Regions from separate parts of the Homo sapiens genome. Here regions 1 and 2 are each linked to region 3. Evidence: fine-mapped expression QTL. A gene starts in region 3. Each other region holds a variant in brackets. All regions are shown on one strand. Distances are between the middles of the regions.

Region 1 (5,335 bases), 20 kb after region 3:
ATTTGCCAGGCACCTTATACTCATTGTCCCTAAAGCAGCAGCCATATCTGTCTGGAGACACCATTGGGTTGATCTGGGTATTGTGGAAACAGCCCAGTGCCCTCTAAAGCTGGCCATGGTCCCAACTGCCAGGATGAACTTGATTCACTCTGCTCTGATTCAGTCCTGCCCCCCACCCTCTCTCTTCTCTCCATTCATCCAGCCCTCCAACGGATAGCTGTTGAGGGCCTGCTCTGGACCAGGCACTCTGCTAGGCAATGCACATTTTCTTAAGCTGAGGATTAATTTGACTTTACTGTTTATTTCTGCTGCCTGGATCCAGCAATTCAAGGTAAAACCTGCTTCTTGCTGCCTTGTTGCTCGTTGCCTGCTCACATGGCTAGCTTTTGGTTAATTGTTTTTCTTCCTAACTTGGACCAATGAGGTACATCCTTGGGGTGTGTGTGTGTGTGTGTTGACTGCCATGCTTGTGAGTTGTCCTGTTGCTTCTCACTTCTCTTCCTTGAGCAGAGGTGGGTGGAAAATAAGATAAGCAGAGGTTCTGCTCCTTTTTTAGTGAGTTATTACCATGTACCAGCCACCACGCTAAATCCTTTATGTACATCGTATGATGTAATTTTGGAACAGTCCAGTGGGTTACATGCCACTTTACAGATGAGGAACCAGAAGCAAAAAGGTGAAGTACATTTCTCAGTGTTACCCCGCAGTGAGTGGTGAAGCTGGGATCTTAATCTGGGCCTGCTAGATTCCAGAGACCATGCTCTTTACCTTGCTTCCTTGCATCTGTTTACAAATCTGTGGTCTCCAATGGAGGAGATTTGGAGGGCAGTGGCTTCATTGACGGAATCAGGGAAAGAGTGAATGATGGTCCTGGGAACTCGTTGCAAGTACGTCTGTTGGGTGCAGGTTAAACAGCTGACAAAGTAGGAATGAAGCAATGGGAGATGGAAGTACCTGCTCATGATACATATTCACTGACCTGCACCCTCCACCCCCACACTCATACCTCTTCTGGCTTTGTCATGGCACCCAGAAACCTTCTTTTAGCATCTTGGATGTGGGGCTGTGGTGGAGACATTCACAGCATGGCTGTCTCCTGCATGCCTGATCCCTGACCTCTTAGTCTCCTATTCCAAGATTCCAGCTGGGTTTAGTTGTTAAGAGCCAGTTAAGCAGTTTTTGGAAGCTCCTGCATGAGCCTCACCTGAGTGTGAGACTTTGGGCATCAGATACAGGACTGCCCTTTGGGCTTGTGGCCTAGAGTGTGGACTTTATTGCTCCAGAGGAGAGGCAGAGATCCCTCATTAGGAAAATCATGTACCTCCTTATGGACCCCTAGTCTGATGTAGAGTATGTTACTTTTCCTTTACACCAGATGGCTTGCTGGGGATGTTCCTGAAACGCCTCTCGTCTCAGCTTATCCTGCTGCAAGCATGGACTTCCCACCTCTGGAAAATGTTTTATGATGCTCGGAAGCCCCGGAGTCAGATTAAGAATGAGATCAACATTGACACCCTGGCCAGAGATGAATTCAACCTCCAGAAGATGATGGTGATGGTAACAGCCTCAGGCAAGGTGAGTGGGGTTTAAGCTCCAGTTACTGAACCTTTTCAAATTCTGAGGGTGAGGAACAAAAAGCCTTCAGTGAGGGATAACACTGGTTCTAGTTTTCAAGGACAGACTCAGTTCTTTGGTTTCTCTTTCTAGTAGTGAGCCAAGTATTTGTTTATCTTGCAGCTTTTTGGCATTGAGAGCAGCTCTGGCACCATCCTGTGGAAACAGTATCTACCCAATGTCAAGCCAGACTCCTCCTTTAAACTGATGGTCCAGAGAACTACTGCTCATTTCCCCCATCCCCCACAGTGCACCCTGCTGGTGAAGGACAAGGTGAGGCATCCAGCTCTGACTTGAGCCAGACTCAGTGTGGCTTTTTTGCTATTTTGTAACTTAAATTGCTCCTAGGCCCTTGGAATTGTGTGAGTTAATGAGGAACATTCAGGGGTTAGAACTCTGTTTCTTCTAGTTTCATGCATGGGTGGAGGAACCATCCAGCACTGATGTGGAATTGTTTAGAAAGTGGGTGTGACTTCACCAGCTATGTAGGGAGCCAGCTCTCCTCTTTTCTAAACATTGGCTGTTGGTTGCTGAGTGGCTATTTTCTCTTCTCTCTTTGAGGAAGAGCAGGACACAAAGATATTTTTGTGTCTTCCCAGAATTAGAATGGATTTTTGTGTATTCATTCTAGCATAGAAGGCGGGCTTGGTAGACACTTTCCTGGAACGGCTGCCTGGTGCGATCTCGGCTCACTGCAGCCTCCACCTCCCAGGTTCAAGCAATTCTTGTGCCTCAGCCTCCCGAGTAGCTGGGATTACAGGCACACGCCATCATGCCCGGCTGATTTTTGTATGTTTAGTAGAGACAGGGTCTCACCATGTTGGCCAGGCTGGTCTCAAACTCCTGACCTTAGATGATCCACCTGCCTCGGCCTCCCAAAGTACTGGGATTACAGGTGTGAGCCACCACGCCCGGCCAGGTTGCTGAATTGTTACTTGACTTTTTTATTAGTTCTTGTTTAGAACTGGCAGAGCAGCCAGGCGCGGTGGCTCACGCTTATAATCTCAGCACTTTGGGAGGCCAAGGAGGGCGGATTGCTTGAGTCCAGGAGTTCGAGACCAGCCTGGGCAACATGGTGAAACCCCTCTCTACAAAAAATAAAAACAGAATTAGCCACGTGTGGTGGTTTGTGCCTGTAGTCCCAGCTACTTGGGAGGTTGAGGTGGGAGGATCACTTGAACCTGGGAGGCAGAGGTTGCAGTGAGCCTTGATCATGCCACTGTACTTCCAGCTTGGGTGATAGAGAGAGACCCTGTCTCAAACGAAAAAGAACTGGCAGAGACAGTTTGACTTTTTTCTTTGTGACGTTAGCCTAGGGGACTATTCACCTACAGCCAAGAACTTATTTTCCACAAAGAGGGCAAAGACTAGAGAACCCCCACAGTTGTTGAGCTGGAGTCCCAGCTCTTCAGGTCTATCCCTAGGATTTGCAGTCTTTTCTTGTTGGTGGAGCCTGACAGTTTGCTCATTTTAGGAGTCGGGAATGAGTTCTCTGTATGTCTTCAATCCCATTTTTGGGAAGTGGAGTCAGGTAGCTCCCCCAGTGCTGAAGCGCCCCATCTTGCAGTCCTTGCTTCTCCCAGTCATGGATCAAGACTACGCCAAGGTGTTGCTGTTGATAGATGATGAATACAAGGTACTGTCTTCAGAGGGGATGGAGAACATGCTAGCGGAGTC[C/G]GGTTTGGGGCCAGGTGGTCAAACACAGCGGCCCGGAGATGGAGTGCTCTCTGCACCCAGCACGTGTTTGGGCTCTAAGGCCATCCCGAAGAGAAATGATGGCTGTGTCTGCATTTGTGAAAACTCAGGTTCTTAACAGAACTGAATGTAAACCCTAAACTGAGTTCAAATCAACTGATTTGCAGTTTTATTCTTAAGGCTCTCTTTGATGGGGAAATTTCCTAACTCTTTCCTTGGGCTCTCTGGGTTTTTCAAGGTCACAGCTTTTCCAGCCACTCGGAATGTCTTGCGACAGCTACATGAGCTTGCCCCTTCCATCTTCTTCTATTTGGTGGATGCAGAGCAGGGACGGCTGTGTGGATATCGGCTTCGAAAGGTAGGAAGGCATGTCCTGGCACAACCCTTTGTGGATGAGATGCAGGTGTTTCCTGGCCATTTGGCTAAGAAGTGAATTATGCTACTCATTCTACTGTAAACTTAGATTAGCATAATCCTGATGTCTGATACAAAGTCAATCATTTGTTCATATTTGTTGGGCAGCTACTACATGGCAGATACGGTTCTAGGTGCTGTGGATGGAGTGGTGCACAGTAGAACAAATCTCTGCCCTTGTGGAGCTTTCATTCCACATTCTTTTTCTTTTTTTTTTTGAGATGGAGTCTTGCACTGTCGCCCGGGCTGGAGTGCAGTGGTGCGATCTCGGCTCACTGCAACCTCTGCCTCCTTGGTTCAAGCGATTCTCCTGCCTCAGACACCCAAGTAGCTGGGATTACAGGCGTGCGCCACCGCGCCCGGCTAATTTTTTGTATTTTTAGTAGAGACAGGGCTTTGCTGTGTTGGCCAGGATGGTCTCAAACTCCTGACCTTGTGATCCACCTGCCTCAGCCTCCCAAAGTGCTGGGATTACAGGCGTGAGCCACCGCGCCTGGCCCCATTATTTTTCTATAGCAGAGAGATGGGACTTTTTTTCCATTCTTGGGAGGGTAGAAGGTAGGAATGTGGGTTGAGTAATAAGTTGTACTTTTATATGAAGATGATGTTGACCAACTCGTGATGGAATGTGTGCTTTGAATTTTATTTCTAGAAAGGGGGTCAGTTTGCTTTAATCCTCACATACTTGAGACCAACTCTTGTAAACAGTAATACACGCTGGCTGTGAAGTCCAGCTCTGAAGTTCACGAGGGGCTGGCATGGCCTTGTTAGCAGGACTGTTTGGAGAAGTACTCTGTGGTGTGTACTCACAAACAGCTCTCCCATCCTGTCCTGTAAGGCCTTTTGAGAGGCATAGAGTTTAACCAATTTGCTAGATTGGAAGTCTAGGTTTGTCACTTACTAACTTTGTGACCTTGGGCTCTGGTCTTCTGTTTTCTTATCTGTAAAATAAGGTGATAAGTACCTGTCTCATAAGGTTGTTGTGAGAATTCAACACATAAATCACATAAAACTGCCTGGCACATGGTAAATGCCATCTGAGTTGGAGGTGCTGTTGTTTTGAAAATGCAGCGCCCTTTTGTGACATTTGTAACAGCTAACCTTAGCATAAACAGCACTGGAAATGGTCTGCCCAGAAGACACATCCTTTACCCTTGTGAATGAAAACATAAATAAATAAAATCATCCTTCTGAGTTAATAAAAAGAGGACCTTGAAAGAGACAGTTTTGTAGATTCAGGGGAGTGAACTGGAGTGTGGGTGTCATGAATCTGGAGTCCTGAGGACATCATCTGAGTGAACAATGACCAAGGAAGACAAAGGAGGCAGAGCTGTCTGTGGGAAGTGAGCCAGCTGTGTGCGCGAGTCCGGGACCACAAGGGAGTGTGCTGCCTTTGCCCTCACTTGGTGACCTTCCTCTCTGGGGATGTTTTAGTGAGTTCTTATGTTTTCAAAGAAGGTTGTGGCAATGAAGGCTTATTATTAATAATTTTCACTATTTTAAAAATTTAGGTAATACATTGAGTATATTCTCATTGTAAAAGAGTCCATTGATACAGAGAGGTGAACAAGCAAAATGTGAACAGACCCTTGTAGCCCCATTCCCAGCGGTC
Region 2 (5,335 bases), 160 kb after region 3:
GCTCTTGTCACCCAGGCTGGAGTGCAGTGGCATGGTCTCGGCTCACTGCAACCTCTGCCTCCCGGGTTCAAGCGATTCTCCTGTCTCAGCCTCCCGAGTAGCTGGAACTAAAGGCACCTGCCACCACACCTGGCCAATTTTTTGTATTTTTAGTAGACTCGGGGTTTCACCATGTTGGCCAGGCTGGTCTCCAACTCCTGACCTCAGGTGATCCGCTCCCCTCAGCCTCCCAAAGTGCTGGGATTACAGACGTGAGCCATTGTGTCTGGCCATCCAGATTTATTCTTAGTTACCAAATTGAATTACTTTCTTTAGAATAAGGCTTTATCTAGTTAGATACTTGGCATTTATGCTATGGCCATTCATTTTTCTTGCAACACATCTTGTTGTGTAGCTGGTCCTGTGTTAGACTGAGGAGACAGCTGTCGCCTGTGCCTGTTGGGAGCTTACTGTCTGGTGGAAGATAGAGCCAAATACAGAGTAGTAACTAAACAGCGAGATAGATGCAGTGTGGAAGGGGCCTCAGGAAATAGGATTGTTAAGTAGAGGGCATGGCACCTGCAAAGGTTCAGAGGCCAAAGAGAGCTTAAAGCCTTCCAAGAATTGAAAGCAGCTGCAGTCGGAGGCGAGGCATGGCAAGAGCTGCCGATGGAGATCCAAGCAGGGGAAAGGCATGTTCTTTCTCCCAGAAGAGGAGTGTGGGTTTTCTCCTGAGGGCAGTGCCCTGGCCATATTACAGAGAGTGAATTGAAGGGAGGTGAGATTGGAGGTAGGAAGAACAGTTGACAGGCTTTTATCGTAATTGAAGTGAGAGAAATGGCAGCTTAAACTAGTTCATGGATAGATTCAACAGAGATTGAGCTGGGAGGAAGAATAAATGGGATTTGGAGAGTGACCGAACGTGAGAAGCTAAGAAGCTGAATGAATCAAGAACCTGCTCAGTTTCTGGAATGAGTGATGAGGTGAATGGTGGTGCCACTGAGATGGAGAAGATCAGAGGTTTGCGAGTAAGGTGGAGGAGAGTTCATTAGACTATGCTATGAATGTATGGTCTGTCCTATTAATAACTAGAATGTAAGTTAAATGAGAGCAAGGTCTTTGTTTTCCCAGCACCGAAAACACACATGTGCAAGCATGCACACACAGTAAACAGCCAGAATGTTGAGTTTGGGGTACCTGTGGAAAAGCTCAGTAGGAGTTGAAATATGGGCTCAGCATTTAGGAGCATGAGACATGAGGGAATAGGTAATTTCGCTGAGACACAGATTGGAAGTGGACTTGCTGTGAGAACAGATTTATGAGCTACTGAGTGATCTGCTGGCTGTGTTATTTTCAGCCTGTTGTCTCATATGTAATCATTGCTGTCAAGTCACTTGTGACAGGTTGGTGAGGATTTCAGGGATGTGGTAATATTTCTCAGTGAGCTCACCTGGAGTGCTTTTTCCAACTACACCTGTCTTTAGCCTTCTGATGTTCTCCACCCCCGTTTATCACATAGCGCTATACGTAGTGACTTCCAGCTTTTTCAGGCACAGAGGTTTCTTGTTAATATCTTTTTTGTTGTTAAAGTTTTTCATGTCCATACCTGCTTGTAGTCATTGCACCTCTAGTATCCCTAGCCTGAGAAAACTGTGCTCCTAGGTTTGGTGGACCCAGGGGCTCCCGTGGAGAACTCAGGGCAGGTCCTTAGGAGAACGTCCAGTGCCTGCTCTGGCTGCTGGTTCACCACTCAGTACACATCAGGTGTTGCTGCTTGTCTTACCAGAATACGGGGATCTTCTCCTGGCCCCTTTCCACATCCTCTGTGATGGATGCTTTGCATATGTTATCTAGTTTTTAGTCATCACAGCAGCCCTTGCACTATCCCCATTTTATAGATGGAAATACTGAGCTTAGAGCATAGGAATTGGTCAGAGGCAGTGGCAGAGCCAAACCCTCTTCCATTTGTCTGTGTCTGTCAAAGTGTGGAATCAAAGGACCTGATTGCAGCTGAGCAGGTGACATGAGATGGTGCATGCTGGTTGAGTTTCTAAACCTTTAAGCTCCCGGGAAGAAGGTTTGTCTACATAATTGGAGGCATGTGTCTCTCTGGTCTCTTACTGGCAGGTTCTGATTGGAACTGATTCCATCCCGAACCTGCATAAGCTGGAGCAGGTGTCCAGTGATGAGGGCATTGGGACCTTGGCAGAGAACCTGCTGGAAGCCCTGCGGGAACACCCTGACGTAAACAAGAAGATTGACGCAGCCCGCAGGGAGACCCGGGCAGAGAAGAA[G/A]CGCATGGCCATGGCAATGAGGCAGAAGGCCCTGGGCACCCTGGGCATGACGGTAAAGCTACCACCTAGAGTCCCCATATTTCTGCCCACACTGTTGATGAGGAGGTGGCCATGGGACAGCCCTGGGGTTGGCCATGGGGAAAGAGAAGGCTGGACAGAGTAGGAGGAAGGAACTAGGTGTGTTCGGCCCTCTCAGAGGTGGAACTACTATCGTTCTATCATACAGATGAGACTCGGAGTAAGTGACTTACGAAGTTTACCAAAACAGTAAACCAGTGATAATAGCCATTAAGTTTATTGAGGACTTATTTAAGCCCTCAAGTAGTTCTAGGAGGTTGATATTGTTATACCCATTTTCCAGATGAAGTAACTGAAACTGAGAGGTGAAGTAAATAGGCCAAGGCACATAACTAATAAGTGGTTGACACAAAGGGTTCTGTGCTCTTCTAACTGTCCCACCTTGGAGGAAGCAGAGTCCTACAAGCTCCTTTTCCAAAGCACAGACTTGAGTGTCAGCAGTTGAAAAGCTCACCTGGGAACAGTGAATGAATCATAGTGCAACAACCCTTGGAAGCTGAGACTTGGCATTGCTGGCACGAAGATGCTGGCATGAAGAAAGGGGGCTTTTCTGATGGCAGGTGGCACCTTGCCAGGGCTCCAGCTGGATGACTTCCTTTGCTTCAGTGGTTCCTGTAGGAAGAGAGAATAGCAGAAGGGCCTGGGTCTTTATCCTTATTAGAAGACAGCTCAAGGGCTTTCCTCTCATGCACCTGTCCTTTTAGTGGAGGTAGAAGGTTAGCCCTGTTCCTGAGCATCTCCAAGCTAGGGTGGGAGAGGGTGTGTGGAAATCCCCTTGACATGCCACCGGGGTTCCCCTACAGACAAATGAAAAGGGCCAGGTCGTGACCAAGACAGCACTCCTGAAGCAGATGGAAGAGCTGATCGAGGAGCCTGGCCTCACGTGCTGCATCTGCAGGGAGGGATACAAGTTCCAGGTACAGCTGCTGGGCCTACGGTCGGTCCTGAGGGCCCAGCCTGACCCCTTGTTCTAGGTAGCATCCCCCTCCTCCAGGCCATTTTGTTCTTAGCTAGGCAAGATCAAGGCCTGCATCTTAGGAGATTAACAAAAGGACCAGCTGTCCTCTTTAGAGGCAGGAAGGCGAGCTCATCCGAACTTTAGACTTTGTTATCTTTATCATCATCATGACAAATGCTGCTCATTGGATTCTTCCTATATGTGAGGCCTCATGCTCAGAGCTTTGTGTAAACTGGATAATTTTATTTAAACCTGTAAAAAGTCTCAACTTGTGGTTAAGCAAACAAAGGTCACATGGCAGAGCCAGAATTCCAGCCTAGGCTTCTCAGACTCCAGACCTGGGCTTTTAAAAACATACCATGCTGCCTCCATTCAGGGTAACTGGGGAGAAAATCAGAACTTTCTAGGCTTATCCAAACTAGATTCCACCTGAAAGGAGCAGAGCAGCCAGTGACCTGCTGGCTCTCCTGAAGGCTCAAAGGTGGCCTCTTCTTTCCAGCTGGAACTTACTGCTTAGAATACAGGCTGTGAAAGGGCAGGTGCCTGGGCCACAGGGCTCGTTAGTCCTGCGTAATGCAGGCTCTTCAGAGCTGCCCAGCAGGTTTTGAAAAGCAAGGGAATATCAAGAAGTCACTTCTGCATTTTCAGACAGATGAAGCACAAAGTAAAGAAAGATGGCCGAGGCTTGCTTATGTGTATGCCTCTGCATCTGCACCGCATCCCCTTCTTGCTGGTTGCTCCCATAATCCTTGTTTCACTAGGGCTGCGGCCAGCCAAGTGCTTCACCAACAGACTGAGGGGCTGGCCTTACCTGCTCTTCTGAACTTCCCTAGTGAGAGCAACCTGAAACCCAAGGCATTGCCCAAGAAGGGCGGCAGTTCCCCTCTATTCTGCTTCTCCTGAGCCTGACTTGGAGTTTCTCCTCCCCTCTCCTTATGTTGTCGTCTTTGCAGCCCACAAAGGTCCTGGGCATTTATACCTTCACGAAGCGGGTAGCCTTGGAGGAGATGGAGAATAAGCCCCGGAAACAGCAGGGCTACAGCACCGTGTCCCACTTCAACATTGTGCACTACGACTGCCATCTGGCTGCCGTCAGGTAGGCCCTGGCTCTTGCGGAATGGCTCCTTCAGTAGGCCTGCCTGTGGGCCTGGAGCGGGTGGGACTGCCATCCTCGTGGTTTTAAATCTGCTCCTTAGTCTCTGGAGAGTAGGGTGTTCTGCCTGACACCATATAGGTCCCCAAGCAGTTATTTGAATGATAGGAAAATATGCTTTGGCCTGGGCCCAAGGCTAGTGAGAACAGCCCTGCCTACCTGAGTCAGCAAAGCCAGTGTGTACCACATTGAGGCTACAAATAGCAAATTCTCTTCGCAGGGTCAGGAGCCTGGGCCGACTGACTTCTTAGTGTTGGCATGCCCCCACCCCCACCCCCGCCCCCCCGCCCAGGTGCCTGGTTGCCACGTTAATGCCAGCAGTCGCTTGTCCCTGCTCTCCTCCCTATCCAGGTTGGCTCGAGGCCGGGAAGAGTGGGAGAGTGCCGCCCTGCAGAATGCCAACACCAAGTGCAACGGGCTCCTTCCGGTCTGGGGACCTCATGTCCCTGAATCAGCTTTTGCCACTTGCTTGGCAAGGTGAGTGTTGAGTATTTTTCATGGTGGAATGGAGGGGATTTGCAGGGGATGGGACAAGACCCGCTATCAGCCCAATCCCCTGGTGACACCATTTCCTGTTACCTTCCTTGGGAATCCATGTCTGTCTGCTTGCTGACTGGGGAGCTGTCCAGAGCATACAGGGTGGGGGATGGAGGCTTACTCAAGGGGTGACCTGACATGGCCCACCACAGGGTGGGAGGAACCAGCACCCTTAGCTTCCAGGGTACCAGATGAAATTTCTGGGTCTTCACTATTCCTTTGCTGATCTTATGACAGAAGATGTGGGGCCAACTTGGTCCTTGAGGCCAGAATTTCTGAGTTCACTTCTACAGTGTGTGGCTCTGAGGTTTAAATACGAAAGTGGCTTAGTGGCAG
Region 3 (5,000 bases):
GCCTGCTAATTTTGGCTGGGACCACAGAAATGCACCACCATGCCCAGGTGAGTTTTGTATTTTTTGCAGAGATGGCTTTTGCCATGTTGCCCAGGTTGGTCTCGAACTCCTGGGCTCAAGAGATCTGCCTACCTCAGTCTCCCAAAGTGTTGGAATCATAGGTGTGAGCCACCATGCCTGGCCCCTTGCTGCTCTTGACCATGATGCAGAGGCCACTCTAGCTGGCCTATGCTGTGCAACCATGAGGCTGGGGACTGAATCTCCTGGTATGTATCTGCACCCCAGTATTGCAATTTGGACCCAAAGACGCAGCAACACCTCTCTGGGGAGGAACATGTACCTCTACTGTAAAAATGGCTGGGGCCCAATTTGCCCTCTACCCACAGAGTTTGGCATTTGCCAGACCTGACCCAGGCCCCTCCACAGAATCAAATCGTTCCAGAAACACTTAACAGAACTCCAACTGCAAAGCCCCGGGCGCCTTCACAAAGGGACCCAGGCCTCTCTTCTTTAACCTGCCCGCACTCAGCCCCTCTTAACTAGGTACCACACAGACAAAGACAATGACATCAGTCAATGGTAAGTGGAGCAGAGGAGGGCAAACGAAATATAGCGGGCCACTTCCCATCATTTCCACTGTTATACCTTTGGCTCAAGCCAGCATCACCCTGTCTTGGATTAATGCTGGTCTCACTGCTTCCATTCCTGCCCTCTGCCCTGTCTTCCCCAACTATTCTCACCAAGGCAACCAGAGTGACCCTTCATAAGTAAAGGTAAATCACATGGGTCCTCTGCTACTCACTTCACCTGGGCAGGAAAGCCAATGCCTTGCCAAGGCCGAGGAAGTCCTGCCCTCTCTGCCTAACTCCCTCCCCAAACTCTATTTGGCTCCTTCTGCTCCAGCCTCACTGGCCTCTTGTCCCAAACACGTCATATCTGCTCCCATTTCAGAGCCTTTTCACTTCAGGTTCCCTCTACTTGGAACAGCATTCTCCCAGATAATTCCACAGCTGCTCAATTCCACAGGTTGCTCGCTTCCTTTCTTTATTTTCTGCTCATTTGTCACTTCATCAGTGAGACCTTTCCCGACCACACTATACAAAATATCAACATCTCTTCACCCCATTTTCAATCTGATTTTTAGCATTTTGCGGAATATGTTTCTCCTAAAACGTTAGGCTCGATAAGAAATAGGCTTTCCTTGTGACTGCTGTATCCTCTAACGCCTAGAAAGTGCCAGACCCCTAAATATTTTTGAATATTCCAGGGAGCCGGGTTAAGAGAGAGGCCACCACAGCAAAGGTGGTCAAAAACGGTCTCTTAAGAGGTGCGCAAGTCGGGTGTAGTGGCTCACGCCTGTAATCCCAGCACTCAGGGAGGGTGGTTGGAGCCCAGGTGTTCGAGACCAGCTTGGCAACACACTGAGTCTTCTCTATAAAAAATAAACAAAAAAAACCTAGCTGGGTGTGGTGGCGTGCGCCTGTAGTCTCAGCTACTCGGGAGGTTGAGGTGGGAGGATCGCTTAAGCCAAGGAGGTCAAGGCTGCAGTGACTTATTTTATTTATTTATTTTTGAGACGGAGTCTCGCTCTGTCGTGCCCAGGCTGCAGTACAGTGGAGCGATCTCGGCTCATTGCAACCTCCGCCTCCCGGATTCAAGCGATTCTCCCGCCTCAGTCTCCCAAGTAGCTGGGATTACAGGCACCTGCCACCATGCCCATCTAATTTTTAGTATTTTTAGTAGAAAAGGGGTTTCACCATATTGGCCAGGCTGGTCGGGAACTCCCGACCTCAGATGATTCGCCCGCCTCGGCCTCCCAGAGTGCTGGGATTACAGGCGTGAGCCACCGCATCCGGCCTGCAGTGTTACGATCGCGCCACTGCACTCCAGCCTGGGCAACAGAGCGAGACCCTGTCTCAGAGGGATCCTATTAACTGACAACTAAGAAGGCGCAAACCATACGAAGATGTAAGCATGCCAGGCAGAAACAACCGCAGACACACAACGCCAGACACGGGAACAAACCTGTGCTGAAAGAAGGGAAAGGCAGCCAGGGTGGCGGGAGCGCAGGAAGATGAGAAAGGGCCGAAGTTGGGAAAAGTGGGCCGAAACGGCAGCAGGCATAGCCGGGGGCGGTGTTCAGGAGCTGCCTCCCGACCCAGTTGGCCTTGCAAGAGCACCTGAAACTAGGCAAAACGAGTCTCCGCTCCCCAGACCCGACCGGGCGTCAGCCACCTCTGGCGGTTTTACAGCCCCGAAGCCCCCATTCCAGCTCGCAGCGAGGCAGCGGAACACCTCGAGGATGTCCTGGCGTTCCAATCTGCGCCCCCGCCGCCCCGAAGCCCTCACCGCAGGCTGGGTAGCCAGCCCACGGAGCTCCCCCCAGGGTCCCGACTCCCCCTTCGCCCACCTTTCTTGTCGCGCTTGGATTTGGGCATCGCGCTGAATCCACGTGCGGCGGAAGACGGTGCACCCCGTTAGGACCCCGGCGGCGCGGGGGACTCTGGGACGGCCCTCGGGGGCTGCCCCTCGCGTGTGCCTGACCCAATGTGCACTGCAGCCTGCCTCTCCCTGCCAAGCCGCCGCCTGCGCTTTCTCCCGCGCCTGTAGGGCAACTTCCCGTGTGCCGAGGCAGTCCCTGAATCCCGAGCGTCCCGTCCGACCGAGGGCCTCGCGCGCTATCCCAGCTCTGTGGTCCCGCGGAGGCGGAGCCCGCGGCGCGGTGCATGCCGGGACGGCGGTGGGTGGTGCATGCGCTCGCATCATGGCGGCTGAGTGGGCTTCTCGTTTCTGGCTTTGGGCTACGCTGCTGATTCCTGCGGCCGCGGTCTACGAAGACCAAGTGGGCAAGTTTGATTGGTGCGTACGTGTGGAACATATTCGAGAGATAAGTGGCTGTTTCCCCAGTACCTGTCTCCTACCTGCTAAAGGTTGTCACTTAACAGGATTGGCCGCATAATTTGCAGGACCCAGTACAAAATGAAAACGTGGGGCCCCTTGTTAAAAAATTATTAAGGATTTAAAGTCGTTGGAAGCAGAGCCTTAAACCAAGTGTTAGGGGTCATTCTAAGCTGATCCTTGCGTGTAAGCCGGCCCTGCCATCCAGGAATGCTTGGGGTGCCGGTCAGAGATCACTGATCCCGTCCTCCCTCGTCAGGTTCGATTTTTTTGACTGTGAGGTTTCTGGTCTACCAGGTGTCAGAGGTCGCCAAGCTGTCAGTGAACTTTAATTCCTACTCGAATTGGTGTCTTGTAGGCAAGTGAACAGGAGCTTTCGTCTTAAAAGTCCTAAACTGAGTCCTTTTCCCCTCTCATCAACCTAGTCTGGCCCTGGGCTCACAGCAGGATTGCCCAAAACACTAAGCAGCTAGAATATGCCATTCACTCATTCATTCATTCACCCACCCACGTCTTCCTTAAGGCCCTGGAGTAGCTTGCTTTTGTTTGAATTTTACTAGTTAAGACTTGTGTGATCTTGGGGAAAGTGACTTAACCACTCTGTGCCTTGGTTTCTTTGTCTGTAGAATGGGTTTACTAACAGTCCGTTATCTCTTACAGTACTTGTGAGAATGAATGAGACAATCCCATTAAATTACTTAGCACAATGCCTGGCTCATTGAATGCAGTCATTAAGCGTTATCTGTTATTATTGCTATTTACACTTTATTCTTCAGGGCCCAGGTCAGATTTCTCCTCCTCTGAAGTATTTTCTGTCTTGGAAAAGTTGATTCGCATATATGTTGAGTACCTGTTATGCCAGACAGTGTGACAAATAAAACATGTTACATTTTTAATGATGTGCACAACTGTTCACAATGTCATATGTGTATGTTACACATATATATCGGGTGATATGTGTATCTAATTTTGCAGAATACTTGATATATGCAATTTTCTTAATTTTATTTTCATGAATGAATGAATGAATGAATGGCATTTCCTAACTGCTTAGTGTCTTGGGCAGCTCTGCTCTGAGCCCAGGGCCAGGTTAGGCTGATGAGGGGGGAAAAGGACTCTGTTTAAGACTTTTTTTTTTTTTTTTTTTTTTTTTTTTTGAGACAGTTTTGCTCTTGTTGCCCAGGCTGGAGTGTAATGGCGCGATCTCATGGCTCACCACAACCTCCGCCTCTGGGGTTCAAGCGATTCTCCTGCCTCAGCCTCCCGAGTAGCTGGGATTACAGGCATGCGCCACCACACCCAGCTAATTTTTGTATTTTTGGTAGAGACAGGGTTTCTCCATGTTGGTCAGGCTGGTCTCAAACTCCCGATCTCAGGTAATCCACCCGCCTAGGCCTCCCAAAGTGTTGGAATTACAGGTGGGAGCCACTGCGCCCAGCCAAGACTTTTTAAAATTTTTTGAGACAGGGACTCATTCTGTAGCCCAGGCTGGAGTACAGTACTATCATGGCTCACTGCAGCTTTGACCTTGCAGGTTCAAGTGACCCTCCCAGCTCAGCCTCCTGAGTAGCTGGGACTACTGGTGCACACCTCTCCAGTTTCTTTGTATTTTTTGTAGAGACGGGGTTTTGCCATGTTGCCCAGGCTGGTCTTGAACACCTGGGCTCAAGCAATCTGGCTGCCTCGGCCTCCCAAAGTGCTGGGATTACAGGTGTGAGCCACTGCACCTGGCCTACAGTTTTCAGATTGAAAAATAAATGAAGACATACAGGTATGCATCACTTAATGATGGGAATACATCCTGAGAAATGCCCTCTTGTGCAAACGTTGTAGCATGTACTTATGTAAATCTAGATGGTTTAGCCTACTACACACCTAGGCTATATGGTACAGCCTATTCTTCCTAGGCTACAAACCTGTACGGCATGTTACTTTACTGAAAACTGTAGGCAATTGTAACACAATGGTAAATATTTGTGTATCTAAACATAGAAAATGTATGGTAAAAATAGGATATGAAAGATAAAAAATGGTACACTGGTATAGGGCACTTAACATGAATGTATCTTGCAGAACTAGGAGTTGTTCTGGGGTTAGTCAGT

The links. PIP is the estimated chance that this variant, and not a neighbour inherited with it, causes the effect.
Region 1: its variant is fine-mapped to the expression of EMC1 in whole blood (TOPMed, PIP above 0.99). The same link has a PIP of 0.9 or more in cerebellum, esophagus muscle, ileum, left ventricle, lymphoblastoid cells and nucleus accumbens.
Region 2: its variant is fine-mapped to the expression of EMC1 in aorta (GTEx, PIP 0.96). The same link has a PIP of 0.9 or more in gastroesophageal junction, subcutaneous fat and transverse colon.

The regions. Positions count from the first base shown.
Region 1 is chr1:19,229,176-19,234,510 of GRCh38, reverse strand. EMC1 (ER membrane protein complex subunit 1) reads left to right here. Exons shown (of 23, transcript NM_015047.3): 14 at 1,376-1,575; 15 at 1,738-1,887; 16 at 3,089-3,250; 17 at 3,548-3,667. The region is part of intron 1 of EMC1-AS1 (EMC1 antisense RNA 1); the gene reads right to left. Among named protein-coding and RNA genes, the nearest start is that of EMC1, 20 kb to the left of the region's middle. The variant C/G (reference allele first, on the strand shown) is at 3,292.
Region 2 is chr1:19,085,749-19,091,083 of GRCh38, reverse strand. UBR4 (ubiquitin protein ligase E3 component n-recognin 4) reads left to right here. Exons shown (of 106, transcript NM_020765.3): 98 at 2,107-2,325; 99 at 3,155-3,268; 100 at 4,263-4,405; 101 at 4,814-4,939. Among named protein-coding and RNA genes, the nearest start is that of UBR4, 120 kb to the left of the region's middle. RefSeq lists an enhancer at 3,044-3,413. The variant G/A (reference allele first, on the strand shown) is at 2,274.
Region 3 is chr1:19,249,274-19,254,273 of GRCh38, reverse strand. It overlaps EMC1 (ER membrane protein complex subunit 1), which reads left to right and starts at 2,750. Exons shown (of 23, transcript NM_015047.3): 1 at 2,750-2,859. The coding sequence starts at 2,765. It overlaps MRTO4 (MRT4 homolog, ribosome maturation factor), which reads right to left and starts at 2,469. Exons shown (of 8, transcript NM_016183.4): 1 at 2,411-2,469. The coding sequence starts at 2,438. RefSeq lists enhancers at 1-13, 14-515, 2,332-2,837 and a silencer at 77-222.